Regions from separate parts of the Homo sapiens genome. Here region 1 is linked to region 2. A link means that fine-mapping ties the variant in region 2 to the expression of a gene that starts in the linked region. Tissue or cell type: skeletal muscle. Region 2 holds a variant in brackets; the other region holds the start of a gene. All regions are shown on one strand. Distances are between the middles of the regions.

Region 1 (14,961 bases), 32 kb before region 2:
AGATTGTGTAAGTGCATGGTCATGAAATAGTTGAAATTGGTCTTTCTTTGAAAGATAGCATAACTAGGCCAGGCGCAGTGGCTCATGCCTGTAATCCCAGCACTTTGGGAGGCCGAGGTGGGTGGATCACCAGGTCAGGAGATCGAGACCATCCTGCTAACATGATGAAACCCCGTCTCTATTAAAAATACAAAAAAATTAGCCAGGCGTGGTGGTGGGCACCTGTAGTCCCAGCTACTCGGGAGGCTGAGGCAGAAGAATGGTGTGAACCCGGGAGGCGGAGCTTGCAGTGAGCCGAGATCGTGCCACTGCACTCCAGCCTGGGCGACAGAGTGAAACTCCATCTGAAAAACAAAAACAAAACAAAAGAAAGATAGCATAACCAACAGAAAAAGCCTGGCACTTGGAGTCAGTAGACAAGAGATATAGTTGAGCTCTGACAGTTACTTTTCCCATGACCATAGACAAGTCACTCATTTTCTCTCGTCCTCTATTTCCTCTTTGAAAACAATGGTGATGATACCCTCCCTCTTTCATGGGATTATGGCAAGGTACAAGAAAGTGCCTTATGCCGGCATATATAAATGCAGGGGTTCGACTTCTCAATACCAAAGATGAGCTCAAAGATCAAAGCACAGCGACTCTGCACACCACAGACTCTGAAGCTATAATAATCACTTGAAACAGCAAAAAAATCCAAAGACTTCAAATCCCATAGAGCAGTGGAAACATGACACAGGAGCTGTTAACTCCAGGGACTATAAGTGAGCAATCAATACCAAGGGAAAGGAGGATCCAGGAAAGTTAACTTTTTGGAAGCAGATGTCTTTGAAACACACAATTGGGCAAAAACAAAGAAACAAAATAGGCATTGTATCCCAGAATGTGTTTCCTTATTGTAAAAGGACCCCAAAACGAATCAAGCATTTTATTTTCTTTCAAATCAGCTCCAGAGTATGACTTGTGGACTCTGTCGTGATTCTGAGTCCACTTCACGTGTACCCATATAACACCCCCTGTACAAAGCCAATTTCTACAGAAGTGAGCAATTCCTAGCAAGGATTGGAGGCAATTCCCAGTGGTTTTGGTCTAGCAAACCACATCACTGACTACTACTGAGTTGGGCTTAGTTTTAGAGGCAGCAGGCAGGTGGAATTAAAGATTAAAAATTCTTCTTTCATGCGGGCTGGGCGCAGTGGCTCACGCCTGTAATCCCAGCACTTTGGGAGGCCGAGGCGGGTGGATCACCAGGTCAGGAGATCGAGAGCATCCTGGCTAACACAGTGAAACCCCGTCTCTACTAAAAATACAAAAAAATTAGCCGGGCATGGTGGCGGGCGCCTGTAGTCCCAGCTACTCAGGAGGCTGAGGCAGGAGAATGGTGTGAATCCTGGAGGCGGAGCTTGCAGTGAGCCGAGATCTCACCACTGCACTCCAGCCTGGGCGACAGAGCGAGACTGTCTCAAAAAAAAAAAAAAAAAAAATTCCTCTTTCATGCTATAAATAGCTTGATCTTCAAAATGTGTAATCTTGCCAGAACGACCTTGCAGAAACACTGATAACTTCCTCAGAAACATCCACACATGGCATACTTGCTTGATTTTCCTCCTGATTAATAAAAGGTTCCCTGTTGATTACATACTACCTGGTGCTCTTTCCCATTATCTCCAACCCTAATTTTGACACTTAACCTAAAGTGGAGGAATGTGGACAGCCAAATGACATTTTTAAAAGGATTCAGGAGGCAGGTTTCTTAAGGGCTCTGCAAGTCTGATGACCCAGAAAATCCACAGGTTTATGGCCCACCCGTGAGACAGTCAGAGCTTTAGATATGCAACTGGTGTGTGGAGAAGTAGGACTCAGGGTAAATGGCAGGTGCAGGCAGTGAAGAAAAGCATACCTCTCCTCCCTCACCACTGCCAGCTAGTCCCCTGCCCCGTGACCCACCCCTTACACCCACAGCTCAAAAAAACAGCGCAGAGTGGCAGAGTGCATGGTTTCTATTCATCAACAACCTACTCGGACAACCAACCTTCCAGGCTGAGCAAAGGGGATGGGTCTGATAATAGCTTTATCAACACTAAGCCAGCTATTTGGGGTGGGGCATGGGTGGAGTGGCTGTCCTCCAAAGGAAAGGAGTGACAGGAAAACTGGAGGGAAAGGCCAGAAGGGGCATGGGAGCCGTGTGCTGGAGGTTAATAACAAAGTTCCCGGTTGCTGTTCTTACCAACATCAAGACCGTCACTGAACTATTTTCAAAGAGAAAAACATGCCACCAGCCAGCGATCCTATAGAGAGAGCTTGGGCTTGGACTGTCACAGGGGGAAACCTAGCCCTTCCTGTCATGGAGAGCTCGAAAAGGGCATAACACACATTGTGTGTGTAATCATATTGTGCTGGAAATACTCTCATTTGCATGTTGTGAGTTTTTACATTTAAATGTGTGGGATTCCACTTTTATTTTTTAATGTATACAGGTTCTACAGTCAGATCCAGGTGTCCCTCCTGTCTGTGTTACATATGGTCAAGTAACTAAGGGTGTCCCTCCTGTCTGTGTTACGTATGGTCAAGAACCTCAGTTTCCTATCTATAGAACTGGAATAATAATATGTAACACATAGAGTTATTGTGAGGAGACTATGAAAATAAATACACTTGTTTAGCGCATCATTTGGCAGAGTAAGTGCACAATAAAAGTAAGGGATTGTTATTAGCGTTGAAATTATGATGGAAGCCTTGAGCTCTCTCTTCTGGCTCTGCACCGTAACTCCGATAAATTTGCTACAGTTTCCTCATCTTTGATACGAAAGAGTTAAATCGCACATTCTATCATTCCTATCCAGGTCAAAAAGTCTTTGAGTCAATGGATGTACTATCTGCAAGTAAAATCATTATTTTTTATTATTTTGCTATTAATATTTTGAAAAGGCATGGGTTTTTCAAAGGAGCCTGTTGGCTCTCAAAAATACAGCAGTTGGATAATTCAACTGCTCCCATTTAGACATTCCATTTTATTATGGGAGGCTCGATGATTCCGGAGACACAATTTCACCAGAGGGTTCTCTTCCACTATCAACCTGTGGAAAATCTGAAACTATACCAGGAACAAACTCCCTAAAGAATGACTCAGGAGGAACCCCCTCCCCCAGCAGTCAGACAGGGAAGTCACAGACCACATGGCCGCGGGCTGACCCAAGGACCTCACACAAATGCCATACCGAGGAACAGAGAAGTTGGGACTATTTTTCCTCATTGGCCACTCTACATTTTGTGGATTCTTCTACATTTGAAGGAAAAGAAGGTGGAGAACTTCTCAATGTCAGACTAGCCATTTGTTTAGACAGGGCATCCGAAACTGCTTCCATCAGAGAACATTGGTTGGTGCGGTACTCAAGACCCACTGTGCTGAGGGAAACTCGATCGCAGAAGTGCCGTGCCCTGGGTCATTTTTAATCCATTCTCCACAAACAACAAAGGATGGTAAGGGTGGGGAGAGAACAGTGTTCCCTCATGGCAGGGGGCAGAGGGCGAAAGAAAACCGTATAGCTTGAGCCTGTATGAGAATCCATTTGTCACACGAGGAAACAAGCGCACTCCAGGTTGTCCTAGGCTTATCACAAGCAAAACAACTATTTGGTGAGACTTCAAATAAAAACAGCCCCTCTCTGCCCACCCTCCTCAAGATCCACGCGATCTCCAGAAACAGGAACCTGTTTGGTTATCTCCCTGCAGCCTCTGATTCAAAGACCTGTCACTTTCAGAGCTTTACGTCATCAGTTTAGAGCTCTGCCCTCTCTCTTTTCCCCTTTTGCCTTTCCTCTGAAGCATTCTGTCTGGTGACTACCAAGGAAGGACAAAAGTCACCGAACAACAGCTCAGTTCCAGCATGGTGCCTGCTTTGCTGCTCGCCCAAGCGCAAGCACCATTACTGCTGAATGAACCTGAGAAGGAGCCGGTTCTCTCCGTAATTTGGATGCCAGGCCTCCCAGAGTTAATCATCAGCTGCAGGCAGCACTTTCCCAGTCAGGTCATAAACAAGGAAAAAACAGCCTGAGTATCACGAAAACACTAAAATAAGGAAGACCAGCGGCAACCGAACATTTTAAAGTAATGAAGGTGAAGGAAGACCAGGGGCAACTGAACATTTTAAAGTAATGAAGGTGAATTAGCTTGTTGGGGGGAAAAAAAGTCGCTATAAAATACAGCTTTCAATTAGTTGGAAACCATGCAAGAAATCTAAATATGATTTCTAATGTGAATCTAAATATTATTTTGTCAGTCTTCTATATTGCAGACAGTTCTACACAGTTAAATGAGATATTCTCAAAAATTGAATAGGAAAAATCAAATCAGCCATACAATAAATTCACAAGTTACTTTAAACAACTACGTTTTCAGGTTTCAGTGGTAGAAACAGATTAAAATCAAATCTAGTCATCAACTCACTTCAATGAAGTCTCTACTTCATAACCTGAACTTGACTTTGAACCTAAACACCATGGACTAGAAAAATCTTGAACACTGGGAAACAAACTTTCTGTTTCCTAGACAGGAATGAAGCCATATGCCCCATTCATCCTCAAAGTTACAAGACACGTTGCCGAAAATAACAGGTTCTAAAAAAGGGCTGTGAAAACACCAATGGCTGTTAACAGGTACAAATAAAATATCTCCTTCTATCGTGCCAGAGGGAAACCAAAATCAAAATCAAAAGTTGTTGGTGGCTTGCAACACACACACACACACACACACACACACACACACACACGGAGAGGGAATGAAAGAGAGAGAGAGAGAGGAAAGTTCTCCAGTTACTTACTAGGGTGGTTTTGTCGTGGTATTTTTCACATCAGCACTCTGCCTGTCCAGCTGCCAAGTGCCGGAGCACGCCGAGAGCAGCTGTTTCCTTCAAGCTGGGGCTCTGAGTCTTAACCAGTCACATGTACCTCCTGATAAATACCGCCCGCCACCGTGCCAGGAGGTCAGAAACTGAAGATCATTCTTCTCCTCACTCGCAAACCACCTCATAACCCCTGAGTTGGCTCAGCCATCTCATGAGCATGCAGAGCGGGATATTCCACAATTTGTTTTCCTTTAGTGACAAAAGCCAAACAGCTGATAAGTCACACTGAAGGGCAGGTCACTGCAAGTGGAAAGTTAAATGTGTTTGCGTGTGTGTGTGCGCAGAGGGGGAGACTGGCAGGCTCCATGCTCTCTCATCTCACTCAAGTTTCACTGGGGCTCTCGAACGGCAAGAGAGAGGATCACCAACTCGCACAGCAGGTGGAAGTTGCTCTGTGTTAACCCCGGAGTACAACTGTTTGGTTTCGTTTTCTCAGAATCTCAGGCTCCAGTTTGTTAGACGAGCCACAAGCCTGACTAGGTGGCTGGTGCTGGGGAAGGCAGACCCTCACTCACCATCTAAGAATGCTTAGGTTGGACTTCAAAGGCCGGGGCTGCTAAGCCAAGGGACGCTGAGGGGCAAATATGGGAGGGGTTAATGAAGACTATCAAAGGCAGCTTTATCTGAAGAGCTCTTGGAAGTGATTTCAGGTAGCTTTAGACCAAACTTCCGCATTGTTATCTGTTGAATTGCATCGAGCAGCTGAGATTATCAGCCGGCGAGTGTGAATGCAAACAGAAATTATCACCAAGTTGACAACGCGCTTTACAGACGCACTACTGCCCCCTTTGGTGTGCTGGGAACTTGGAGCAAACTGCCGTTTTCTGTGCTGCTCGCAAACGTGGCAAACCATCCCTGATGTTTTGTTGAATTCATATGTCTCACCTGAGCTGATGTTCCCACCCTTCCCTTTTCATCCTCCCTTCCAAGGAAAGCCCTTGAAGTATCTGACTTTACGTAGTGTCTGACCTTGGATGTCTGACTTCTTGGTATAGTAAGGGTGACACTTCCCCGAATCAGTGTCTGAGCCTGCCCTTCAGGTAGAGATATGACATAGAGGCAGCCTATTTGGCAAAGTGAACATCCAGAAAAGATGGTTGAAGTCCCCCAGGGGATTTCTGAACCATAATGTGCCTGTTAAACTATTAACCCTGATTTTTAACACATAATATCTTACTCAGTGTAAGAGCCTGTGTGAGTAATCTTTTATATTTAGGCTTTGTCTCATAATTATTTACAGTGTTAATCAAACCAGAAATTTCCCTCCATATAGAGGATACAGTGTTTTCTAGAATAAGAGAAAAAGACAAAAAACCCTCAGTCTCACCATACTATCAGGGCAGTAATTTGTTGTCAACTTGTGAGAGTCCGAAGAGCAAATGGGAGAATTTTGTAAGCACCAAAACAAATCCCTTCCTCAGCATTTCAAGTTAGTAATAGAAATAAACTTCAGATATAAAAATGCAATGCATAAAATACACATTTCCCTCACAGGCATTTTTGTTTATGTGTTGATGTGACAATCTTCAATTAGAAACAGAAAAAGAGGCCTACTGAGGATTTGAAACATTATTTTGATTTACTTACCCCCTTGTATTTACAGTAATAGAAACTTTTGTGATCTGATGGCATCCATCCATCACTTTGTTTACCATTGACTGGGTTAATTATTCTGATGATCCATTGCATGCCACATAAAGAAACAGGGACTTCTAGAAACTCTTCAATGCCCAACAGCGACAACAGCCTCAGGAAAGTTAAGTTGTATTAGTCCATTCTTGCATTGCTATAAATACTTGAGACTGGGTAATTTATAAAGAAAAGAGGTTTAATTGGTTCATGGTTCTGCAGGCTATGGAGGAAGCATGATACTGGCATCTGTTCGGCTTCTGGGGAGGCCTCGTGAAACTTACAATCATGGTGGAAGGCAAAGTGGGAGCAGATGAGTCACATGGCCAGAGCAGCAGCAAGACAGACAGGGGGCACTTCTAAATGACCAGCGCTTGCCAGAACTCACTATCAGCTGGGTGTTGTGGCTCATGCCTATAATCCCAGCACTTTGGGAGGCTGAGGAGGGTGAATCACCTGAGGTCAGGAGTTTGAGACCAGCCTGGCCAACATGGCAAAACCCTGTCTCTACTAAAAATACAAAAATTAGCCGGGCGTGGTGGTGTGCTTGAACCTGGGAGGCAGAGGTTGCAGTGAGCCAAGATCAAGACCGCACCACTGCACTGCACTCCAGCCTGGGCAACAGAGTGAGACTCTGTCTTAAAATAAACAAATAAATAAAAGAACTCACTCACTATCATGAGAACAGCACTAACAGGATGGTACCAAACCATTAATGAGAAATCTGCCCCTAAGATCCAATCACTTCCCACCAGGCTCCACCTCCAACACTGGAAATTACATCTCAACATGAGATTTGGGTGGGCACAACATCCAAACTACATCATAAGTGTAAAGCAGGAGTCCCCAGCCCCCATGCCATGGACAGGTACCTGTCCATGGTCTGTTAGAGGCCAGGCTGCACAGCAGGAGGTGAGCAGCAGTCAAGGGAGCATGACCATCTGAGCTCTGCCTCCTGTCAGATCAGCTGTGGCATTAGATTCCCATAGGAGCATGAACACTATTGTGAACTGTGCACGCGAGGGATCTACACTGCATGCTCCTTATGAGAGTCTAATGCCTGATGATCTGAGGTGGAACAGTTTCATCCTGAAATCATCTCCATCCCCTCATTCCCGGTCCATGGAAAAATTGTCTTCCATGAAACTGGTCCCTGGTGCCAAATACATTAGGGACCACTGGTGTAGAGGTTCTTTTCTAGTTCTATAGCCAGGAGAGGAAGGGATGGATCCTCAATCCTCCCTATGAAGCAAACTGTTAACACAGAGGCCAAGACCCAGGACCCTTTCAGTCAGAGTCCAGGAGTGTGACTAAAGGTTCTACAATAACACAGCCTTGCAAAGAAATGGGGGAGATCCCATCTTTCTGCCCACACTCCCTACCAGTTCCAAGCATTGTCTTCGACTCAAGAAGAGGTGCCCTCTTCCTGTCAAGAGGCCACCTCCTACCTCGGCTTTGTGTCTCACCCTGTGTCTCCCACCTGCTTAGGACTCTCGACAACAACCACGCCTTCTCTTGCTCTCAGCGTGCGCTCATTAGCTAAACATGCTCACGTTCTCACATTGTCTTTATATCCTAACAACAGTCTTTCTGATTTTTTGCTTTTTTTTTTGAGACGGAGTCTCACTGTGTTGCCCAGGCTGGAGTGTGGTGGCGCGATCTCGGCTCACTGCAAGCTCCGTCTCCCAGGTTCAAGCCATTCTCCTGCCTCAGCCTCCTGAGTAGCTGGGACTATAGGCACCCGCCACCACGCCCAGCTAATTTTTTGTATTTTTAGTAGAGACATGTATTTTTAGTAGTAACATGGGGTTTCACCATGTTAGCCAGGATGGTCTCCATCTCCTGACCTCATGATCTGCCCACCTTGGCCTCCCAAAGTGCTGGGATTACAGGCGTGAGCCACTGCCCCCAGCCAGACTTGCTCTTTTAATTACTGCCCTAACTCCTGCATTCCCTCCACAACTAAACTCCTGAAAAAATACTTGTCTTCACCATCTCACATCCCATTTACTCTCAACCTACTTGTGGCTTGGCTTTTTTTCCCTCACTTCACTGAAACTGCTCTTTCCAAGTCCCCAAAGACCAAAGGCAACCGACACTTTTTGCTTTTTTTTTTTTTTTTTTGAGACGGAGTCTTGCTCTGTCACCAAAGTGCTGGGATTATAGGCGTGACCCACCGCGCCCGGCAATTTTCATGTTTTTAGTAGAGACGGGGTTTCACCATGTTGGCCAGGATGGTCCCGAACACCTGACCTCGTGATCTGCCCGCCTCAGCCTCCCAAAGTGCTGGGATTACAGGCGTGAGCCATCTTACTTGACCTTTTGGCTCTATTTGTCCCAACTGACCAACCACCCCTTGAAAAGCTCTCCCATGGCGTCTATAAAATTTTACTACTACCTCCTTCATCCTCAGGTCTGGGCTTCTCTTCCGCTATCTGCCCCTTAGGTGTGAAAATCCTCTCTTCTCATCTTGCACTCTTACCGCCCCTCATATGTTCTGATTTATTACTGAAGGTCTGCGGTGATTTCCTAATTAATCACCTTGCCTCCAAAAAGCCTGTCTCTGATCTCAATGTATGTTTTACACGCTAGGACTGAAAGCCCCTCCGGGCCATCGTAGGCAACTTTGTATTCCCAGAACCTTCAGGGCTTCACTCCCACTCTAGCTGCCTGCTGCTTTTGTACATTTCGCTGCGGTTGCATTTCTTTCTGTATTATAATTAGGTCTACATGTGTCTGTGTTCCATCCAAACTTTACCAATCTAAGACAAAGCTTATGACTTATTTTATATCCTGCAATGCCTAATACAATGCCTGGCATGTATGAGACACATGGTGGAAACAATCCTCGATGAATAAATGAATAATTAAAGAGAAGGATCTTCTGTCTAGCCCATTAAGAAAAAAATATAAGAAAAGTTTGCAAAACTTGATTTTATATTAGGCTACCAAAAAAAAATTGTAAGTAATTTCTTTCCAAAAGAAATTGGCCATATTCTGTGATCACACTGTAATAAAACTATACATTAATTACAAAAGTGTAAGTCAAAAAGACCCCACGCTCTTGGGGAAACTTTAGAGTTCTTAAAAAAAAAAATCATTGATTGGAGAATAAATTAAAAACACAATTACAGAATGAATGCTTAGAAGGTTTCAGTGATGAGAATACCACATATCAAATATTGGGAGACATAGCCAAAATAATAATTAGAAGCAAACTGACCCAGGAAGAAGTCAAAAAACAACAGATCAGTAACCATGGAAAAATGTAAAAGTTAATAAGGAATTATTTCCAAAAAAAGCTCTTAGTTCAGATTACTTACACAATCAAGTTCTAACTGAGCTTCAAGCAGAATTAACTCCCATGGTATATGAAGTGTTCAAGTGGACAAAAGTAACAGAAAGCTAACATAATACCCTGTCTTAAAAAAAAAAACTGATAAAGCATAATAAAGAAAACCACAGACTAACTTCATACGTAAACATAGGTTGCCCTAAAGATGTAAAAAATAAGGCTGGGAATAGTGGCTCACCCCTGTAACCCCAGTGCTTTGGGAGGCCAAGGTGGCAGGATCACCTGAAGCCAGGAGTTTGAGATCAGCAGGGGCAACATAGCGAGACTCCATCTCTACAAAAAAAAAAAAAAAAAAAAATAGCCCAGTGTGATGGCAGATGCCTATAGTCCTACCAACCTGGGAGGATGAGGCAGGAGGATCACTTGAGCCTAGGGGATCAAAGCTGCAGTAAGGTATGATCACACCACTGCACTCCAGACTGGGCAACAGAGAAAAACTTTTGGATTGCCACAATAATCTTGAAAAATCATTTGATAAAATTCAATATCAATTTTTTAATTAATAAAACAAAATTAAAAGACTGATTCTTAACATGATACTCATGTTAATTCAAATCTCAAATCAAACATAGGCATCATACTTAATGGTAAAATACTGGAAGTATTAATGTTAAAATCAGAAACAAGAAAAGCATGCTCATTATCACTACCATCCATTTAACACTGTTCTAGACATTTGAGCCACTGCAACCAGGCAAGAAAAAGAAACTAAAGAAGAATTTTATGAGAAAAATGGAGACAAAAGTATTCAACCTGCAGATTGAGTAATATTCATTTTCTCAATAGAACAAACTAAAATTTGCTTCTAAATAATTAAAAAGTGAGGTGAACAGTTACAAATAAATATACAAAATAAGTATACAAAATTAATTGTTCTGGCCACGGAACAATTATACAGAAATATATGAAATTTTCCATATAACCCACAAAAACTTAGAAAACATAATAGAAAATAATTCTTGGCCGGGCGTGGTGGCTCACACCCATAATCCCAGCACTTTGGGAGGCCGAGGAGGGTGGATCACAAGGTCAGGAGATCGAGACTATCCTGGCTAACACGGTGAAACCCTGTCTCTACTAAAAATACAAAAAATTAGCCGGGCATGGTGGCGGGCGCCTGTAGTCCCAGCTACTCGGGAGGCTGAGGCAGGAAAATGGCGTGAACCCGTCAGGCGGAGCTTGCAGTGAGCTGAGATCGCGCCACTGCACTCCAGCCTGGGCAACAGAGTGAGACTCCATCTCAAAAAAAAAAAAAAAAATTCTTAGTTATAGTATTATTTATAATAGCAACAACAACAATAACATTTCTAGGAATAAAAAAAGTGAATAACCTATTTAAAAATGTAACTTTACTGAGAAAATTAAAAACAGTTTGATACATTTCTGTATTGGAAAGTTTTTCTGTACTGGAAAACTTAACATTGTAAATATATTAATTCTCCCTCAAATTAATTTATAAATATAATCAAATTTTGCTTAAAATCCCAAATAAATTTTTCAAACAGGTCAAAAATCCTCAAGTTTATTTTAAAGAATAAAAAACTGAGAATGGTAAAGAAAATTTTAGAAAAGAACCACAAGGGAGATATTAGGTACTAAATAGGCTAAAAATAACGTGAATTTAAAGTTTGGTACTAGTGCCAAAAGAACTAGAGCAATGGAACAGAGCCAAAAGCCCAGAAATACACATAGAAGAACTACAGTAAAATGTTTATTGTATTTGTTCAATATGGTTTTTAAACCCAGTGGGAAAAGAATAAACTATTCAAAAACAGGTTAAATCATTAACTATTCGGAAAAATTAAGATGCAATCATTACTTCATGCCATACACAAAGTAAAAGCATGTTAGACTAAAGAGTTAAACATAAAAACGCTGTACAGCAGCACGGTGGCTCATGCCTGTAAACCCAGCACTTTGGGAGGCCGAGGTGGGCAGATCATCTAAGGTCAGGAGTTTGAGACCAGCCTGGGCAACATGGTGAAACCCCTTCTCTACCAAAAATATAAAAAATTAGCTGGGCATGGTGGCCCATATCTGTAGTCTCAGCTACTAGGGAGGCTGAGGCAGGAGAATCACTTGAGCCCAGGAGGTGGAGGTTGCAGTGAGTCAAGATCGCGCCACTGCACTCAGCCTGGGTAACAGAATGAGACTCCATGTCAAAAAAAAAAAAAAAATCACATACAAACTTGAAGAGAATCACATGATTGGTTTTATAATCTTAAAATTGTTTTAATCATGATTAAATACTTTTGTCCTGAAAACGTTTCAATCACAGTCACAACAGAAGGAGCTATAAAGATAAAAGTTCACGATTTAAACCATAAAATATAAAACATATATGTAAAATATAATCCAACGGTAATCAAAATTAACCTACAAATAATAAAATGAGATTCAAAAGTGAAATACGTATGGTAAAGGGTTAATGGTCTTAACATATAAATAGCATTTACAATTAACAACTGGATATTAATAAATAGTTCACAAGGGAAGAAACATAAATGACCAATCTACACATGAAAAAGTCAGCTTCCCTAAAAAAGGAGTATACATTAAACAACGATAAGATACAATTTATTATCTATAAACTTGACAAAGATGAAAAAACGAAAATTCTCAGTGTTGGCAGGAGGTTTGGAAAATGGCACCTTCATACTCTACCAGAAAGAATATAAATCGTACAACATAGGAGGAAGATAATTTTGTAATGTATGTCAAAAGCTTTTTAAAATGTGAATACCCTTTAACTCAGCAGTTCCTGTTCTAGAAATATATCCTAAGAAAAGAATATGGATTGCATATGTATAAGGATATTTCACGCAGCATTACTTATACTAAGAAAATATTAGAAAAACATCTAGGTGCCAAAAGTAGTTGAATAAATTAGAACATATTCATAAGATATGGCACTATGCAATTATAAAATAATGTTGAAGTGGCTGGGTACAGTGGTTCACACCTGTAATCCCAGCACTTTGGGAGGCCGAGGCAGGTGGATCACGAGGTCAGGAGATCAAGACCATCCTGGCCCACATGGTGAAACCCTGTCTGTACTAAAAATACAAAAATTATCCCGGCATGGTGGTGTGCACCTGTAGTCCCAGCTACTCAGGAGGCTGAGGCAGGAGAATCGCTTGAACCTCGGAAGCAGAGGTTGCAGTGAGCCGAGATCATGCCACTGCACTCCAGCCTGGGCAACAGAGCGAGACTCCGTCTCAAAAAAAAAAAAATGTTGAAGCATATTAGTAACATGGAAAAATATTCAGCATCGATTAAGTGAGATATAAAAGTTACAAAAGTTTATTCAGTACAATCCCATTTTTCTAAGAAAATATGTGAATATATTAAAAATCTGAAACATTATATATCAAATTTTTAATAGTGATTATTTCTGGGAGTTGGGGGTCACATATATTTCCTCCTCCTTTATGCTCATCAGCATTTATCTACTGTTTCTATAATAAATATTTATTAGTTCATTTTTTAATGAGATCTTTTTAAAATAAGAAAAGAGATACTGGACTTACAAAGACACTTAAGTACTTCAATCATCTACACAAAGAGAAAAAAACAAATCATGTACACTAAGAGAGAAAGAAAGAAAGAAAGAAAGAAAGAAAGAAAGAAAGAAAGAAAGAAAGAAAGAAAGAAAGAAAAAGCCTCACCATCCATTAGAAAAACCAGTCACTTTTTCCCAAGTCTTGCTTCTTTAACTTTCTGGTCAATATTTGACAGCAAATCTCTGAAAGGTTTCAAGGATACAGGAAGAGGGCGGAAGTGTGGTCTTGCCTGAGCACCTCTTATTCTGTTTCTCAGGGAGGTCCCAATGGGCCTTTGTGCCTATCTGAGCCACCGCCTTAGGTAGAAATTCCCAAAAGGTACCAATCTCATATAGGCACTGTCAGATAGTACAACTTCCCCTGCTAGCAGCTCCCTCCTGAAGCTGTGGGTCCATTTGCCCTACACCAAATTCCACACAAGCTGCGTCAAGTTGGGACGCAAAACCTGCTGTTAATTTGAAGCACTAACACATACCACATCTCATCCCATCTCTGCCTTCCTTTCCTTTTAGGAGACTTTGTATGCAACATTCTCTCATATTCCTCCAGCTCAGTAAATTCTATCTTGTGCAATCTCTTTTTCAGACACATACACTTTTTTGATACCTTCTCTTTTTTTCTTACAACACTTGTCTAAAAATCATGGGAGATTTCTCTACCCTTCTTGTTCTTCCCTTTGAACTATGTGTGGGCCAGGGTAAGCACCCAGTCACAGTCAGTTCATTATAAGAGTTGTGCTAGCTACATGCCTGTAACAAATAAAAAGAAAGAAAAATTTTTGAAAGCATCAGAGAGTAGACTTTGCAACCTCTAAAGCTCCTGAATCAAACAAACCAATATCAATAACTGAAAAAAATATAGTGCCGGTGTTCAATGTGCATTGCCTTTAGGAATTCATCAAAGTACCTGAAATCTCTCTGGGAGAAAAGAGGAACATGTAGAAAGGCATATAGAAGTAATCATAATTATTATATATAATACCAAGTAGAATTTATTAATATATATATAGTTAGTATGTTACTAATATATAATAAGCTAACACCTGTGCAAAACACTCATTTAATCCTCATGGTAATGATCTAAGGAGATGCTATTATTACCCCTAGATGACTTTTCGTGAGGTTGACTAGCCTGCCCACAACGAGTGAGCAGCAAAGAGGGATGTAAACCCAGGTCTGTCTGACTTCAAACCCTGAGCATTTACCTCCCCAGAATGACTTAGCAGCCATAGAAGTTTTCCTAGACTTGCTCATCCTCTTCTAATTAAACCTGGGTCACGGAAAATTTTTTAACTTATGTTTATAGTATACTGTAGTCTGTTAAGTGTGCAATAGCGTTATGTCTGTTTCCCCTGCATCTGCAGTTACCTCCTCCGCTGAAATCTTTTTTTTTTTTTTGATACAGAGTTTCCCTCTTGTTGCCCACACGGCAGCGCAATGGCACAGTCTCAGCTGATTGCAACCTCCACCTCCCAGGTTCAAGTGATTCTCCTGCCTCAGCCTCCTGAGTAG
Region 2 (17,678 bases):
AGCATGTCAAAGAGATACCTACACTCCATGTTCATTGTGGCATTATTTATAATAGCCAAGATGTGGAATCAGCCTAAGCATCCATTGACAGTTGAATGGATAAAGAAAATGCGGTATATACAATGGAGTGCTATTTAGCCTTAAAGAATAAGAAAATTCTGTAATTTGCAACAACATGGATAAACCTGGAGACTATTATGCTAAGTGAAATAAGCCAGACACAGAAAGACAAGTTCTGCAGGATCTCATTTTTTGTGAAATCTAAAAAAGTTGAACTCAGTAACAGAGAGTAGAATGAGGATTGCAAGGGGCTGGGAAGAGGTGAGAATGAGGAGGTTTTGATCAAAGGGTACAAAATTTCAGTTTGACAAGATGTATAAGTTCTGTTGTACAGCATAATGACTACAGTTAATATTGTATTGTATACTTGAAAATTGCTAAGAGGATATATCTTAAATGTTCTCACCACAAAAATAATGATTGGTATATGAGGTGATAAGTATGTTAAATAGGTGATTTGATCTTTTTGTAATGTATACATATATCAAAACATCATGTTTTACATCATAAATATATACAATTTTAGTTTGTCAATATCTTAATAAAGCTTGGGGGCTGGAAATAACGATAAGAAAAGTAAATCTCTAGTCCCTATTGAGTCTTCCGAAGACTCTAGTCCCAAGTGACAACTGACTGCAACCTCACAAATGAAACTCCTTAATCTGACCTTCTCCTGAATTTCTGGCCCAAAGAAATCATGTGAGGTAATAAATGCTTACAGTTGTTTAAAGGCACTTAGTTTTGGAATGATTTGTTACACAGAAATAAGTAATAAAATACCTTTCTTATCTTTACTAAAATGCATAATGGTCAAATATACAAAAGTTTGCATTTTGTATTTGCTATATATCATAAATATTTTCACTGTAATAAATATTCCTTTTTTTTTTGGAGATGGAGTCTCGTACTATCACCAGGCTGGAGTGCAGTGGTGTAATCTCGGCTCACTGCAACCTCTGCCTCTCAGGTTCAAGCAATTCTCCTGCCTCAGCCTCCCTAGGAGTGGGACTACAGGCATGCACTACCATGCCCAGCTAATTTTTGTATTTTTAGTAGAGATGAGGTTTCACCATGTTGGCCACAATGGTCTCAATCTCCTGACCTCATGGTCTGCCCCCCTCGGCCTCCCAAAGTGCTGGGATTACAGGCGTGAGCCACCGCGCCCGGCCTAAATATTATTAAATATTCCAATGTCATGAAATATTCTGTTGTATGTCATCAAACATGGTTTTTTCTAGATTCCTGCACAATATTCTATGCTATCTACATAGTATAACGTATTATGTCTTAAAAGTAGATGTCTGAAAAAGTAATGTCTCAATTGCAATGACGAAAGGTTGGTTGAGAAAAAACATATATGCATATATATGCAAGGTAACTCTGCATACTTTGTTAATACTTTCATTCATTCACCAAATTTAAGATTAGGAAGTTGGTATGTGTCATGCACCTGATCTTATGTCTGGTAATCTGGGAGAGGTAGAAATGATGAAGACATTGTTTAAGGTCTCAATCACACTTGCACAGCACTTGGCTTTTGTCTAAACCTACCTAAAGCCCCAAACAGAGAGTAATCATGTTATACCTGGTATGCATAATTTGAAAAACATGTCTAATCTCTACCACATGTAAATTTGTGTCCTAATGAATCTCATTACAACAAATGATACAAAATATTACTTAAACATTTACTATATGTAAGGTTATATCTGGTTCCCAGAGGGATTTCTTTAAAATAGGTTTATTGAAACATAATTCACATACCATACAATTCACTGCGTTTTGCTATATTATATAGTTAATTTTTAAATTGTAATAAATATATATAACATAAATTTGCTATTTTGACCATTTTTACGTGTACTATTCAGTGGTATTAATTACATTCACAATGTTGTGCAATCATCACCACTATTTGCAAAACTTTTTTATCACACCAAACAGAAACTTTACAACTATTAAGAAATAACTCTCTATTCTCCCTTTCCCCCCACCCCCAGCCACCTCTAATCTACTTTCTGTTTCTATGAATCTGCATATTGTAGATATTTCACATAAGTGGAATCATATAATATTTGTTCTTTTGTGTCTGGATTATTTCACTTAGCATGATGTTTTCAAGGTACATTCATATTTTAGCATATATGAGAACTTCATTCCTTTTTATGGCTGAATAATTTCCCATTGCATGTCTATGCCACATTTTGTTTATCTCTTCATCTGTTGATAGACATGTGGGTTGTGTCTGGTTGTGTCTGCCTTTCAGCTATTATAAATAATGCTGCTATGAACATTAGTGTACCACAGAGAGTTTTTTTTAAAGCACAAAATAAGGCCTAGACATGAAGGAATTTATAATTAGGTTGTTGAGAGAAGAAACTCTTGGAAAATTAACCACAGAGGCAAATAGTAGTTGAATAAATTAAAGAAACACCACCAGACATGGGATTAAATATATAAGAAAGTATTTATATAGTATTACAGTATATAAATGTTATAGCATTTCTGAAGAGGGCAAATTCACTCAAGACTGGTGACAGCTTCATCATCAAATGAGGAAGAACAAAAATGTTGTTCACTTCATAATTTACAAAGTTTCTGACATCACAGTTTCAGTGGGGTTGAAAACATGTGATCAGATTTTATGTGTTTAAAATCTGAAAGAGACTTGAGAAAATAAAGGTGGTATGTGATGGAATACTCACTGAGAATCTTGGCAGTGAAATCAGAGAATCCAAATGGGTCATCAGAGGGGTGCCGCAGGTTCAGGTAGATTGGGTGTAGTTTCCATGGCAAAGAAGAGATATGGATGTTTTAAAAGAAAATATCCTAGAAACAAAAGAAATTGAGAGAAGACATTGAAGAAGGATGCATTCATTGACCAGAAGGTGAGGAGACAGTTTCAGATAGAAAACACAGACATGGGCCGGGTGCGGTGGCTCACGCCTGTAATCCCAGGACTTTGAGAGGCCAAGGCGGTCGAATCACTTGATATCAGGAGTTCAAGGCCAATATGGTGAAACCTCGTCTCTACTAACACAAAAAATTAGCCAGGCATGGTGGTGCACGCCTGTAATCACAGGTACTCAGGAGGCTGAGGCAGGAGAATGACTTGAATTCAGGAGGCGAAGGTTGCAGTGAGCCAAGATCGGACCACTGCACTCCAGCCTGGGTGACCAAGTGAAACTCTGTCTCAAAAAAAAAAAAATGTGCACACTCCAAGGTTGGGGCACCTCTTTGAGTAGCATGTGGCACAATTACCCTATGTTTTGTCTTTGTCAGAGGGCCTCCATTACCAGAGAAACAGCCCTAGTTCCCAGCAGAAGAAATAAGAGAGTGTTCCAGAACAGTCTGTCCCCCTGGCCCAGCCTCCTGTTCCTTGGGCTACATACATAATCTCAACTCATTTGTAGGTCCCTGATTCTCACTGTTTTGTGAAATCAACCAGTGGGACCACTCAACCCAGATTTCTTGACCTTCCCTGAAGGCCCATTCATGCCTGACTTGGTCACTGCTTCCCCCTCTTTTTTTTTTTTTTTTTTTGAGACGGAGTCTCGCTCTGTCACCCAGGCTGGAGTGTAGGTTCACGCCATTCTCCTGCCTCAGCCTCCCGAGTAGCTGTGACTACAGGCACCCGCCACCAACACCTGGCTAATTTTTTGTATTTTTAGCAGAGACGGGGTTTCACCGCGTTAGCCAGGATGGTTTCCATCTCCTGACCTCGTAATGCACCCGCCTCGGCCTCCCAAAGTGCTGGGATTACAGGAGTGAGCCACCGCACCCGGCCCAGTCCTTCCTCATTTTCTATTGATATATTTTTTTAATGGTAGTCTCTGCAGGATCCAACAGTTAATGGCACTCACCAAGAGATTTTTCTTTAACTGACTCGGAAATTTGTATGTGCAATTTGAATGTGAAATTGCACACATTCCCTCCCTTCCTTTTCCCCACCCTAGAGGCTGTTGAGGATCATTTCTTGAGGCTCAGTCTCTAGTCTTCCTCACCCTTTCTCCAAGGAGAACTGGACAATCATGCACAATTCTCATGTGCCTGCATATTTAATTCTAACCATTCTCTTCACTTTCCTCTCTTCTACTTCTTAGCCAAGTGTTACTTCACAGAAATCTCACCCTATTTGGGAACCAAAAAAAAAAAAATCCAAAAAATTTCCAAAAAAAATTGCCCTACTTGGGCCGGGTGTGGGTGGCTCACGCCTGTAATCCCAGCACTTTGGGAGGCCGAGGCGGGTGGATCATGAGGTCAGGAGATCGAGACCATCCTGGCTAACATGGTGAAACCCCATCTCCACTAAAAATACAAAAAAATTAGCCCGGCGTGGTGGCGGGTGCCTGTAGTCCCAGCTACTAGGGAGGTTGAGGCAGGAGAAACGTGAACCCAAGGGGCGGAGCTTGCAGTGAGCCAAAGATTGCACCACTGCACTCCAGCCTGGGCGACAGAGCGAGACTCCGTCTCAAAAACAAAACAAACAAACAAACGAACAAAATTACCCTATTTGGGAACCAACAAAAAAGAATGGCTACACATTAACAGCAGAACTAGTCGTACTTTGTCCTTCAGGAAAAGGCAAGCACAAAGTTTAACAGTAAAATTAGACATAAAAGCCTAAAAAAGGTCTCTCTACCTAAGGGTCACTTAGATAAGGCAGTCCCCTTTAAAAAAAAGAATTCCATTTACTTCCTCATTTTTCGTTGGTAAATTTGCTTTTCCTCCAATATTAAGAAACAAGATAAATATGATTTATCTCTTACGCTTGTCCCTGACTCTAGTATAGCACCTGGCACTTCCTGGATTCTTTACTAGTGTTTGTTGCTTTGAATTCAAGGTGGTTTTGTTGATCCAGTATATACTTTTTCTGTTTGGTTAATTAACATATTATTAATATATTAATGTGATATAATTATTAGCATATTAATATATGATATAATGTATTAATGTAGAAATAGTACATCAATAGTTAGATTTCATTGAATAATTTCAAATGCATACATGTTTAGAATAAATAATATATTATAAATACATTGTAATAATTTCGTTGTAGATACGTGGCATTTTAGGTGCAGTATGCAGTCACTATTTATAACTTTGTTTCTATGGGGAAAATGTAAAGTGAATTCAGAGGGCCAAGAAAATTATTAAAAACAAACTTTTGGACCATTACCAATTTGTAAATCATGCAATGAATGGTCATTATTTATATATGTCTTTAACTTTTATTTTGATTTCAGAATTTTCTGACTGGTTAAACTCTAGTTTCATAACCAAACCCTCATGGAATAAGACAAGAACCAAAAATGTGATCATTCCAGTTGGCTGCAACTCATTGCCAGGATTTCAGAGACCTATGTTTCCAGGTCTCTGCCATTGGTGGGGCCATAAGAACCTACAGTGTCTTCTGATTTTATCCACTTCCACCAGTTCTATTTTTGTATCTCCGTATTTAGCACACAGAAGCTATCTTTATCACACCAGCTGACTGGCATGAGAGTCCCCAAGGCATAGTAGTTATAGAAGATTATTATAGCATACTTCCTATCCTTCAAATAAGACAATGCAAAATGCAGAAAAGACATCAGCAAGTGGTCACAATGTTGGAAGTATGTGCGTGTGTGCATGTGCACTTGTGTGTGTTTCCATTGCTAAAGATTTATTTCTTTGTACTAAGTTGTAGGCACTATTAGGAGCATAATGTCTATAATGGTTTTTGGAACTCGATTTTAGGCTGTGTAATTGAATCTATTCCTATACCTAAAATTCACTTCAAAACATTATGATAAAGTCTTTTACAAGCATATCATCCAGATTTCAAATTTGGATAATGTTTATTAAAAAAACTTCTATTGCCCTAATTCTCAACTGAGGAATCCATAGTTACCCAGCCCAGGTGAAGAGCTGAATCATTCTAATAAGCCAAATCTCCAAAACTGCCAGTCCTTGGCTTGCTATTCAACTATTCAATCTTACTTGATATAGAATGTTCAGCTCAAATGTTTCAGAATGGAGATGACTGTGAGTACAGAAAAGGTAGCAATATCTCATAGTCTAAATTTCACATTATTTATGAGCTGTGGGTGGCACCGTAGCTCTTCTGTTTAGATTTGCACTGTCTTATACAGTAGCCACTAGGCACCTGAAGCTATCAACTTGAAATGAGGCTAGTCTGAGTTGAGACATGCAGTAAGGATAAAATACACACTGGGTTTCAAAGACTTATTACAAAAAGGGAATATAAAGTTTTTATTAGTGGTTTTTTATATTGGGTGCATGTTGAAATGTTATCTTGGATATATTTGGTTAAATCAACTATATTATTATTATTATTTTAGAAAGGGTCTTGCTGTTGCCCATGCTGGAGTGCAGTGAGTGGTGCAATCATAGTTCACTGCATCCTCGAAATACTGGGCTCAAGCAATCCTCTCACCTCAGTCCCCTGAGTAGCTAGGACTACAGGCATGCACCACCATGCCCAGCTAATGTTTAAAATTGTTTTTGTAGAGACAGGGTCTTGCCATGCTGCCCAGGCTGTTCTTGAAATCCTGACCTCAAGCAATCCTCCCACCTTTGCCTCCCAAAACACTGGGATTACAGGTGTAAGGCACTATCCCCCACTCCTTAAACTATGATATTAAAATTCATTTTATCTGTTTCTTTTTATTTTTTGAAATGTGGTCACTAGGAAATGTAAAATGAACTATGTAGGTCACATTAGTGGCTCACATTTTATTTATATTTTATTTTTTTAATTTTTTTGAGACAGGATCTCACTTTGTTGCCCTGGCTGGAGTGCAGTGGTGTGATCATAGCTCACTGTAGACTTGAACAACTGGGCTCAAACAATGTTGCCAACTCAGCCTCCTGAATATCTAGGACTATAAGCACGTACCACCATGCCCAGCTATTTTTTTTTTTTTTTTTTTTTTTAGAGACAGGATCTCACTATGTTGCCCAGGCTGGTCACCTGGGTTCAAGTGATCTTCCAGCCTCTGCCACCCAAATTGTTGGGATTACAGGTATGTATTTCTACAGGACTGTGCTGTAGGGTGTTCCATAATAAATAGTAAGAGCAGTAAGTAGTCTTTAAAACTGGAAGTCAGAGCTGCTGCCGAATTTTACTCCATATCAGGCTAACCAGAGAAGAGTATGACTTGGAGTGATGTAACAGCCCACACATGTTTAGTTTCCCCATCCAAAGAATTCTAGTAATACCCAGCAAGACAACTATGAACACAGGCCGCTAAGAGAAATAAATAAATGTTACCACAGCATAATACCTGCCTTACTTAACTGTTTCCTAATTGATAACCCATCCCTCATTTTCATCTAAGGGATGTGCCCATTTCATGGCATGGAAACTAGATATTGAATCATTAATTCACTTGTTTTGAGTTTTTGTTGTTTTATTCTCCTGCCCATTGCTATTAAAATGAAGACTAGGGACAATTTAAAAAATAGAAACATGAATTTGCTATTTATAAATGTAATAGAAAGAAACACTTTTAAGATTCTATGTCTGGGCAACAGGGAGTTATTCAGAGGCAAGAAAAGTCACAGCAATATCGCTGTGCATTTTACTAGCTATGTGCACAGGGAGGCGTTCACACTGACCCTGAATATTAATAAACATAAAAAGTTCAGCAGCAAATCCCTGTTGTGGGATTACCGGATTACTGAATTAAAAACACATTGGAAGTCATTGCTGCCAGCAAAGAATTGTGTAACTGCTGGTAAAAAAGAAAAAAAAAAAAAACAATAGTGATTTCTGTAGGAGAACAAAACAATAATATCTTTGTAATGTTCTGAAATCGCTACATGAATAAAGCTGAGACGGGCTCCCCTGCATTTCCCAGTTTGATTTGCTGACCATCTTGTCTGCCCATAATTGTTTTCTGCCATTCATTTCCTCCAATTGTCAATTATTACTAAAACAATTATGAAAAAAGTGCATGTCTTTGTTTCCTGCTGCTGATGAATGCAGTGAAGTCATAGAACAGGCCAGTGCATCATAATCTTTTCCATTACAATGGATTATGCTGTCACAAACAGGATATAGCCCTTTACTTGGAGGAGAGGCCGTCAATGGCAATGAATTAGCATGAACATATTGTCAGCCATGACAGCAAGAAATCAGAACAGAGACTTAGCTCTGTACATTTTGAAAACATACTGGGTTTTGTTCCTGATTATAAAAGTAGTACATGCTTATTTATCCTGGAGACAAAGTAGAAAATCAAAATCACCATTATCCCACCAACCAGAAATTTTTTTTCGAGACGTAGTCTCGCTCTGTCACCCAGGCTGGAGTGCAGCGGCGCGATCTTGGCTCACTGCAACCTCCGCCTCTTGGGTTCAAGCAATTCTCCTGGCTTAGCCTCCTGAGTAGCTGGGACTACAGGCGCATGCCATCACGCCTGGCTAAGTTTTGTATTTTTAGTAGAGA[T/C]GGAGTTTCACCATATTGGCCAGGCTAAGAAATTTCTATTGTTAACAGTTGGTGTATGACTTTTTAGCTCTTACTTCTTTTTTCATATGTACATATATATTTTTTAAGCAAATGGGGTCACACTATATACATAATTTTGTAGACTTCTTACATTCACTGAATGTAAGTGTAAATGTTCACTTAACATTTACTATGAATAGTTTCCAATGTCATTAAATATTATAATGTAATTTAATGTCTGTATAAAATTTCATATTGTGGAATGTTATTTAACAATTCCCTGTATATTTAGGTTAGTTACAAAATGTATCTGTTATGAATAGTCTTTTACACACGCATTATTGTCTCAATTTATGATGTTTTTAAGAATAGATCCCTAAAAGATAGACTTTTTGCTTTTTACTAAAAAATATATTGTGTATTTTGAAGTAAATATTTAGAATCAAAGATCTAGGAAATCTTAATAAAAAGGCACGTATGTGCATTGAAAGTTTAGTAGCCAAACATATGTGCCTGCCTAAAATGGTAAACAGGTGAAGTATTTTTAATGATTAGAAAGTTTAAGATAAATCTAAAACTGTTCTATTCAAAATGCCTTTCAGGCCAACAAGCTGTAAGGGTGTATGTAATTCCATGGAGTCTTCTTCCAGAATTTCCTAGCACAACTAGCCTTCTTGAATTTGCTATTTAGAGATTCCTAAAGAGCTTGCTTCTAGTGCCTGGCTCTGCTGTCTCTGGGCTGAGCGTTGTTTTCTGGTATTGCCACTAGAGAGCAGCCAGGGACAAGGAGAGGAGGTTGACACCCTTGGTCTTTTCTCTTCAGCATAACCTTTTTCTAAAAATTGCACGATCTAATTTATATGTGGAATATTTTTTAAACCCTAAAACACAGAGATACAGAATGAAACAGTGGCCACTAAGGGTGGGAGGAGGGGGGAAAGGGAAATGGGGACATATAGGTCAAAGGATACAAAATAGCAGACACTAAAGAACAAGTTTGGAGGCTGGGTGCCGTGGCTCACGCCTGTAATCGCAGCACTTCAGGAGGCCGAGGCAGGAGGATCATTTGAGGTCAGGAGTTCAAGACCAACTTGGCAACATGGTGAAACCCTGTTTCTACTAAAAAATACAAAAATTAGTGGGTGCAGTGGCGTGTTCCTGCAGTCCTAGCTATTTGGGAGGCCGAGGCACAAGGATCACTTGAGCCCTGGAGGTGGAGGCTGCAGCAAGCCGAGCTTGTGCCACTGCATTCCAGCCTGGGTGATAGAGGGGGACCTTGTCTTGAAGAAGAAAGAAAAAAAAACAAGTTTGGAGATCTAATGTCCAACCTCAAGATGAAATTTAATAAAATTGTATTGTATTCGGGATTTTTGTAAAATAAGTATGTTTTAGCCACACATGTCATACAAAAAAAGTAACTATATGAGATTATAGATTCTTCATCATAATCTTTATTTCACCAGATGACCAAGGGAAAATTTAAAATGAGCCACTAAGGGGAAAAACGATTCTGGAGGTTAATAAATAAGGAAAACCTCTGGGTATAAATGATTTCCATTTTCTCAGAGAGAGTAACCAAAAGATGGAGAATTCTACGAGGGCCATCAAAGTTACGAACAATAGAAGACCTGGAACCTGGCTAAAAACTGGGTTCTAGCATGAGCAACTGGCGCCCTTAGCTCTTTGCAGATGGAGAAAGTGAATCTAGAGCCAGAGGCTCAACATTCTGTATATGAGTCTCAGTTGTGAGGGCTTTGGCCCCTACACATGGTGGTTCCATTTTCCATCTGCCTCTCATTAATGATGTGATCATGGACATGTTACTTAATCTCTCTGACCTCACTTTTCTCAACTACAAAATGTGGCTGGCAATGGAACCTGCCGATAGATGGTTGCAGAGGCAGAAGGAGATAATGGAGATAAAAGGCTTGACATCGAGTAAGTGCTTAATAAATGTTGTCGTTTTTATTTCCAGTTCTCACCTCCCTCCTAAGCTGTTTTCCATTCTCAGCTGTTCGCTTACTATTTCTATCTGACTATTCCATCATTCCCTCAAATTTCCTGTGTTTGAAACCAAAATCCCCATCCCTCTCACTAACTCCCTGACCTGCTGCTGTCTCTTTGGCCATTTCTTTGAATGGAGCCATAAAACATAACATCCTCTTGAACACATTCTCTCCTCCTATAACCATACCCAATTAGTTTGCAAAACGCGTCAGTTTGTTCTCAGATGTGTCTCCATTGGGCTTCTTTCTCTCTGTCTTCATCAGAACCCAGGCCTCGGTGCCCTGATCTCTCCCCCAGCAAGTTCTGCCTCCAACCGGCAGATCTTATGCACGCCATTTCCCTTTTCAGAACTTCTCATCGGCCCCAGGTGTCTTTAAATTCTTGACTCCTTAGTTCACCATTAAAGTCCCACCACCTTCTGAACCCAGCCTCCTCCAGGCACTTCTTTCCTGCTCCATAGGCTCATTCCCTCTGCTGCTGTCAAGCTGGCTGACTCTCAGTTCCCTTGAAGAGTTGCCAGATTTGGGAAATCAGAATACAGGGCCCCCAGCTAAGTGTGAGTTTCTGATAAACAGCAAATACTATTTTCGTATAAGTAGGTCCCATGCACTAAGTCTCATACACAGTCATGCAGTAGGGCACACTTAGACTAAAAAAGTGTTTGTTGTTTATCTGAAATTCACATTGAACTGGGCATCCTGTATTTCATCTGACAGCCCTATTCCTTGGGCGCAGGAAGGCCATTCCTGTCTCTGCTCATGCTCACAGCTCCATTCTTATCATAGATGTCCTCATCTCCCTCATCCATCAGCTCTCCTCCCGCTTACCAAGACCCAACTCAGCCTCAGGCCTCCATGAAGCCCGTCTGGATCAGGTCTTCCTTAGGTGGCACTCATTATCTACGTCATTAATTTGGCTCCACATACAGGATGCTTTGTGTCCTGTATACTTCCCTTTTTTCAACTTAACATTGAGTTTTTCAAGGATAGAGATTATATTGTAAGTTAGAAAACTTAATAAATAGGTGTTCATGGTGTGGTGCTGCTTGTAGACCTGTAATACAGGATGAGACAGTAGGAGAAAAGTCTCCAAAAGCCAATTGTCTGAATTTAAGGTGCCTGTAAATACACAAGAATCATCGTGCAATACCCCTCTACCCCACCCAGCGTCAGGCCAGATGGCAGGTGGGTGTAGTTTCCAGTCTGAAGAAGAAGACCTTGGCATGCTTCTCCCACATCCCTCTTCAACACATCCCCCAAGTTGTACATTGTATTTGGTGACATCTAAATTTCTTGCTGCTTCATATGGTCTCTTCAGTAACCTGATTTTACTTGTATTTAAATGTGAAGGCCAGGGTTGGCTCTATTATTATGTAAACTGTAAACACATGGTGATTGTAGGAGTTACTCTGGAAATAAGGCAATACATTTCTATGTAATTAATTAAAAAGCTAAAAAATTGATAATTTTTTTCAAAATTAGCTAACTCTAACTTAAAATGTTCTCAGCAACTTGTAGATACATAAAACAATCTGTAGAACTACCGTAGAACTATTAAGCAATTTCTAAGAACTGTATTTTAAATACCTGGCATTTCATGAATACAATTTTTTTTTTTTTTTTTTGGCGATGGAGTCTCACTCCATTGCCCAGGCTGGAGGGCAGTGGCGCGATCCCGGCTCACTGCAACCTCCACCTCCTGGGTTCAAGCGATTCTTCTGCCTCAGCCTCCCAAGTAGCAAGGATTACAGGCATGTGCCACCACGCCCAGCTAATTTTGTATATTTAGTAGAGACGGGGTTTCACCCTGTTAGCTAGGCTGATCTCAAACTCCCAACCTCAGGTGATCCACCCGCCTCGGTCTCCCAAAGTGCTGGGATTACAGGCGTGAGCCACCACGCCTGGCCCCATGAATACATTTATAAATCTATGGTCATCTGGAAACCAATGACCAGCAATGAGCCTTTTACAAGTGAAAAAATATATTCTTGAAATAATACATCTAACTCATAATTTTATCTTTCTTAAACCTTACATACAGTTAAAACATTTTCATTCTCATAATGTAAACATGTGAATGTGTCAAATGTGAACGTTGTTTTGAAACTCTAAGGGAAATGAGTTCAACATGATCAGAAATCAGAATTGCTGTAAGCAACATTGCTGTAATTAGAGCCATGTGGCGTGGCAATTAATTAAGTCACCTTAGAGTCCACTCTGTGGAAGATCTAAAGTGGACTCAGAACTGACTTTGCAGCACTGGAATGTCCTGAAAATAAATGCTGAGGGTTTGTTTGTTTGTTTCTTCAGATCTATCATATTTATTCAGATTAATTTCATTTCCCTCTCTTTTTTTTTTTAACCACTTAAGTTCAGCTAAGAAATCATGATCTTTCTATTCAAACATATTATACTTTCTAACAGTTTCCATGGAATTATAATTTTCTAATCAGTAAAAAATAACCCTTAAATTCTCCCAGGAAAGAAGACGGCCAGTGGGATCCACACTGAGCCTGAGCCGAGTCCTGGCCTCCTGTGCCGGTTCTAGCTGGTTCTGCTTTTCTGGCTTCCAGCTTTGCTATCTTCTTGGGACAGATTCTAAACATCCCAATCTCAAACAGGGATAGGGCAAAAGAAATAACAGCCACACATTTCCTTCTGCTCTTCCTTTTCAATAATCCACCAGAACCGTATTCCTCTGTTAGTCATTGTGGTAACATTAATCAAGTTACTCCAAGACACAAATGTGGTTATTATCAGCAGCGGATGCAAATATGGTGCATCATTTAAACAAATGTGCTTGTTTAATGGCAAAGAATGTTAAAAGAATTTGGAATGTCCCTAGTAGCTTTCCAAGTTTTTGTGGGCAACATCAACTGTTCTTGGATTTAATCCATTTCCTTTCAACCTTACCATTTCCAAACCCAGTGACATTTTTCAAGGTACTCAAAACATAATGAACGAATGTTTGGAAATAATAATTTAAATCTACATAACTACTATGAACACTTTCTATCACTGGAAACTATTCAGTGCTGTTTTTTGTGGTTCTAGAAGATTCTCCATTTTCTGAAAAATGAATGTTCAAGACAAAAAACCTGTATTAAAATTTGTTATCTTTGCTTAATTTTATACAAAATTTAAATTTTATATATAACTTTTATACAATTGTCCATTTCTGCTTGAAGGCCTATTTATTAAAAGTATTCTAAACTATTATTCATCAAATAAATTATAGGTGGATTATTAATCAGCAATTTGAAAAGGGCAGACAAGCAGACAAATATCAAAAATATATTTTTAAAGGTGATCATCAATGAAATTATTTATACTATCTAAACCCCTGATAATAATGAAACTGAAGAAAGTTTGTAAAGTTATTGTCAAGAAACAACTTTTTAAAATATTTATTGTAAAAACCTGAAGATGTCATAACCAAGGTTGATTTCTACATTTCTTCAGAGATATGAGCAAAGCATATTGAAAAGTTACATGAGGATCGGACCTCAAATCATATCCATTGTCTGTGGCTAATATCCATAGTTCATGAAGTGCATTAAGACGCAACAACAGACAGATTTTTAAATGACACTTACCTTTGCAGAACTGCAATAATGTTGATCCCTATAGTGAATTGTCTTTTTCTTTCCACTTCATCACCTCTAGCAAGTTTCTCTTCAACGTGCCTAAACACCTAGAATTCCTGTTCTGTCTTCTAAAATGCTGTCATCACCTCCATTGCCCAAATCTAGTTCAAAAGTGAGGAGAGAAAAAAAATTGAAATTTGCAAGCTGTTTATGCCTAACAACAACATTGAAGCTGCTAAGCTTTGAGCTCAATGAATTAAAGGTTGTTTGGCTAAATGGCAGGCAGACTTCCTCCTATTCTTTCCGAACTTAGTTTTCCTGCCTCCAGTGGAGCTTTTTCCTTTCCTGGGCTATAAATAGGCTGGTGGTAAGAGTACTGAGGAAAGAAGAAGGCAGGAAATGTATTTGATTTCAGAAAGCAGCCTTAGGTATATGAGTGCATGTGTGCTTCTTTCAAATGAATACCAACAAACAAACTAAAAATTTGGCCTCAAATAATTCAGCTTTGGTCTGTGCACCATAGTCAACATTTTCTTTAATTTCCTATGGTCTCAGTTTTACTATAAGTTGTCATATCCTATAGACACTTAAATATGGTTGATTCTTCAAGGTGGGAGTGTATGTCTGGAATGAAGGGACAGTTTAATTTGTGACATACATATTTTTTTCCCTTTCAAATATTATACTGTGTATGCCATGCTTTCAAAACATTAATTTTAAAGACAATTTTTAAAACTGTTATTACTTAAGGTCCTTCATATAATTCTATTAGATGTCTATGTATTGATTTGTTATCTAACAGTCATCTATTTATCTGTCACCTCCCTCCCTTACTCTGTCATTCTACACTTACTGTCTGTCAACAGTGTTTGTTTTAGCCACCCAGTAAGTGTTTGTTTTAGCTGCTCTTTACGTGAGTAACACTTTGAGAAGAAGCACAAGGAATTTCTCCATAGGAGGGGCTACTTAAAGAGTGGTCCAAGGACCGGCCAGGCGCGGTGGCTCACGCCTATAATCCCAGCATTTTGGGAGGCCGAGGTGGACGAATCACGAGGTCAAGAGATGGAGACCATCCTGGCCAACATGGTGAAACCCTGACTCTACTAAAAATACAAAAATTAGCTGGGCATGGTGGCATGCACCTGCAATCCCAGCTACTTGGGAGGCTGAGGCAGGAGAATGGCGTGAACCCAGGAGGCGGAGGTTGCAGTGGGCTGAGATTGTGCCGCTGCACTCTAGTCTGGCAACAGAGCGAGACTCCGTCTAAAAAAATTTTAAAAATTAAAAAAAAAAAAAAGACAAAAAAAAGTGGTCCGAGGACCAGTAGCATCAGCAACCCTGGATCAGAACCTCTGGGGCTGGGGCTCAGATGATTAACTTCAGGTGATTCTGATGCTCACTAAATAGGAGAAACATGGATCTACATAATTACTTTGTGTGCATGTTTATTAATATCTCTTCAAAAAGGAATTTAAGAGTAGATTTTTTTAATGTAAGAATCAGAAAATAATGTATATGCTTTTTATGCTGGTAACCTCCATCTAGATGACTAGAAGAGTTTTTAGATCTAATGTTAAGAAGACATACTAATTTCCTAATTACTTGGAGAAGCTACCTAATGTGAGGCAAAAGCAGTGGAAAAAACAAAAGGATAGTATTTAAGAGAGAGACAACAGCACTCACACATGGTGAAGAGTCATCCTACATATAGATAAATTCTAAGCAAATTTTACTAACAGCTATATCTAAAAATTATAAGTTGTCTGAAACAAAACCAAAGTAAACAGTGAAGAAATGAAGCTTCTAATGGAAATACAATGTCCCAGCCCCCACTTTTTTTGTTTGTTTGTTTGAGACAGAGTCTTGCTCTGTCACCCAGGCTGGAGTGCAGTGGCGCGATGTTGGCTCACTGCAACCTCCGCCTCCCAGGTTCAAGCAATTCTCCTGCCTCAGCTTCCCAAGTAGCTGGGATTACAGGCATGTGCCACCACGCCCGGCTAATTTTTGTATTTTTAGTAGATATGGAGTTTCACCATGTTGGCCAGGCTGGTCCTGAACTCCTGACCTCAGGTGATCCACCCGCCTCGGCCTCCCCAAGTGCTGGGATTACAGGTGTGAGCCACCGCGCCCGGCCCCCAGCCCCTATTTTTGTTTAGTGATTTGATTATTGTTTTGAAACCCAGCCATTTCTTGTCCATGCTTGGGTTTCATACTAGGCCCCCGTATAATAGAAGCAATAGGTTGAACAATGAGCTCAAGCCAGAGCTGATAAGGAAAAAGTAAGGGTGTCCACATCCTAAGTACAGATTGGGAGGAAAATGTTTCTTCAGAGAGAAAGAGAGAAACAGAATGCGAGGGAGAGAGAAAAAAAAGACGGATAGAGAAAAAAAGAAAAAGAGAGGTGAATGACTTCCTTGTAATAGCAGAAAGGAAGAAGGAAGTCCATGGTGCTCAGGATATAACAGCTGCAGTGTATTGAAAGAGCTAGAAAGTACATGAGTTGACTTTGGCAAGAAAATGGCTGGCAGTGGGGTAATATGTTTTTGAGAGCAAACCGTGCTCCCATGTGAGAAGAATGAATGCTTCTAAGAAACTCCAAGTACATTTACTAGGCTTCTTTCATTGTCCTCTGGAAATATTCCTTCTATTTTTTGTGGGGAAGTATTTTACTTGTCAAAAAGAACAACGTCACAGAACTCCCCGTATTGCCCATCTCTAGAAATGAATCATTCAAACGTCTATGGGAACAACAAGGCTCTGTATTCTTAATCTAAAATTAATGACAGACTCTCTCAAAAGGCATAGTGGGAAAAAGTCAAAGGCCTTGTTAGGAAAGATAATGTGTGACATTCTTCAATTATTTTGGTTCTGTCAGTGGAGGAAAATACGGTTTTTAAAATTGAAGTCCCTTAAAAAGTTTTCAATATATAAAATATAGAGAAAACCTAAGCAAAAGTTCTCAAAGAAAACGCAAAAAAGAGTCTGCATATTATTGCTTAACTGAGATGAATGCACTTATGTATCTGAGCCTGTATGTCCCATAGGTATTTTTAATAATAGCTTATCTTTATCCCCAAAGTGCAGAAGCTCTAGATAATGACCAAATTGTGGGCTATGAACTGTGTTCCTTTGACTTGAATTGTTGCATCATACTAATGAAAATAAGTCAAAACTGCTAGAATAACCACTCAAAAGAACACAGGTTAAGGATGGCTCTCTAAATCACAGCAGGAATAATGAAAAGGTGGTTGAAAGTTAGGAAGGACTTCTCCATCTTAAAAATAAAATATAAGAGTTACCAACTCTTTGAAAGAGCTAGAAGACTTAGTGGGATAGAAAAAAAGCTTTTCCATTAATTTAATTGAAGTTGATTTGTGTTCATCAGTAGTTTATTTAGACTGATTCTCAGCAAACATAATGTTAAAGTTACCTTGCAAATTAGAAAACTCTTGGCACAAATAAAACAGTGCACAATATCTCCCAAGAGAAGCCCAGCCTTGGTAAAGTTCAGTTGGAAAATCTAAACCAGACTACCTTCCCTGCACTAGACTTTGGTTTCTGTTGGTATTC

The links. PIP is the estimated chance that this variant, and not a neighbour inherited with it, causes the effect.
Region 1: RASGRP3 starts here. The variant in region 2 is fine-mapped to the expression of RASGRP3 in skeletal muscle (FUSION, PIP 0.92).

The regions. Positions count from the first base shown.
Region 1 is chr2:33,466,566-33,481,526 of GRCh38, reverse strand. It overlaps RASGRP3 (RAS guanyl releasing protein 3), which reads right to left and starts at 4,878. Exons shown (of 18, transcript NM_001139488.2): 1 at 4,820-4,878. RefSeq lists enhancers at 1,593-1,762, 5,223-5,542.
Region 2 is chr2:33,433,031-33,450,708 of GRCh38, reverse strand. It overlaps a transcript of RASGRP3 not described here. Among named protein-coding and RNA genes, the nearest start is that of MIR4430, 23 kb to the right of the region's middle. The variant T/C (reference allele first, on the strand shown) is at 8,516.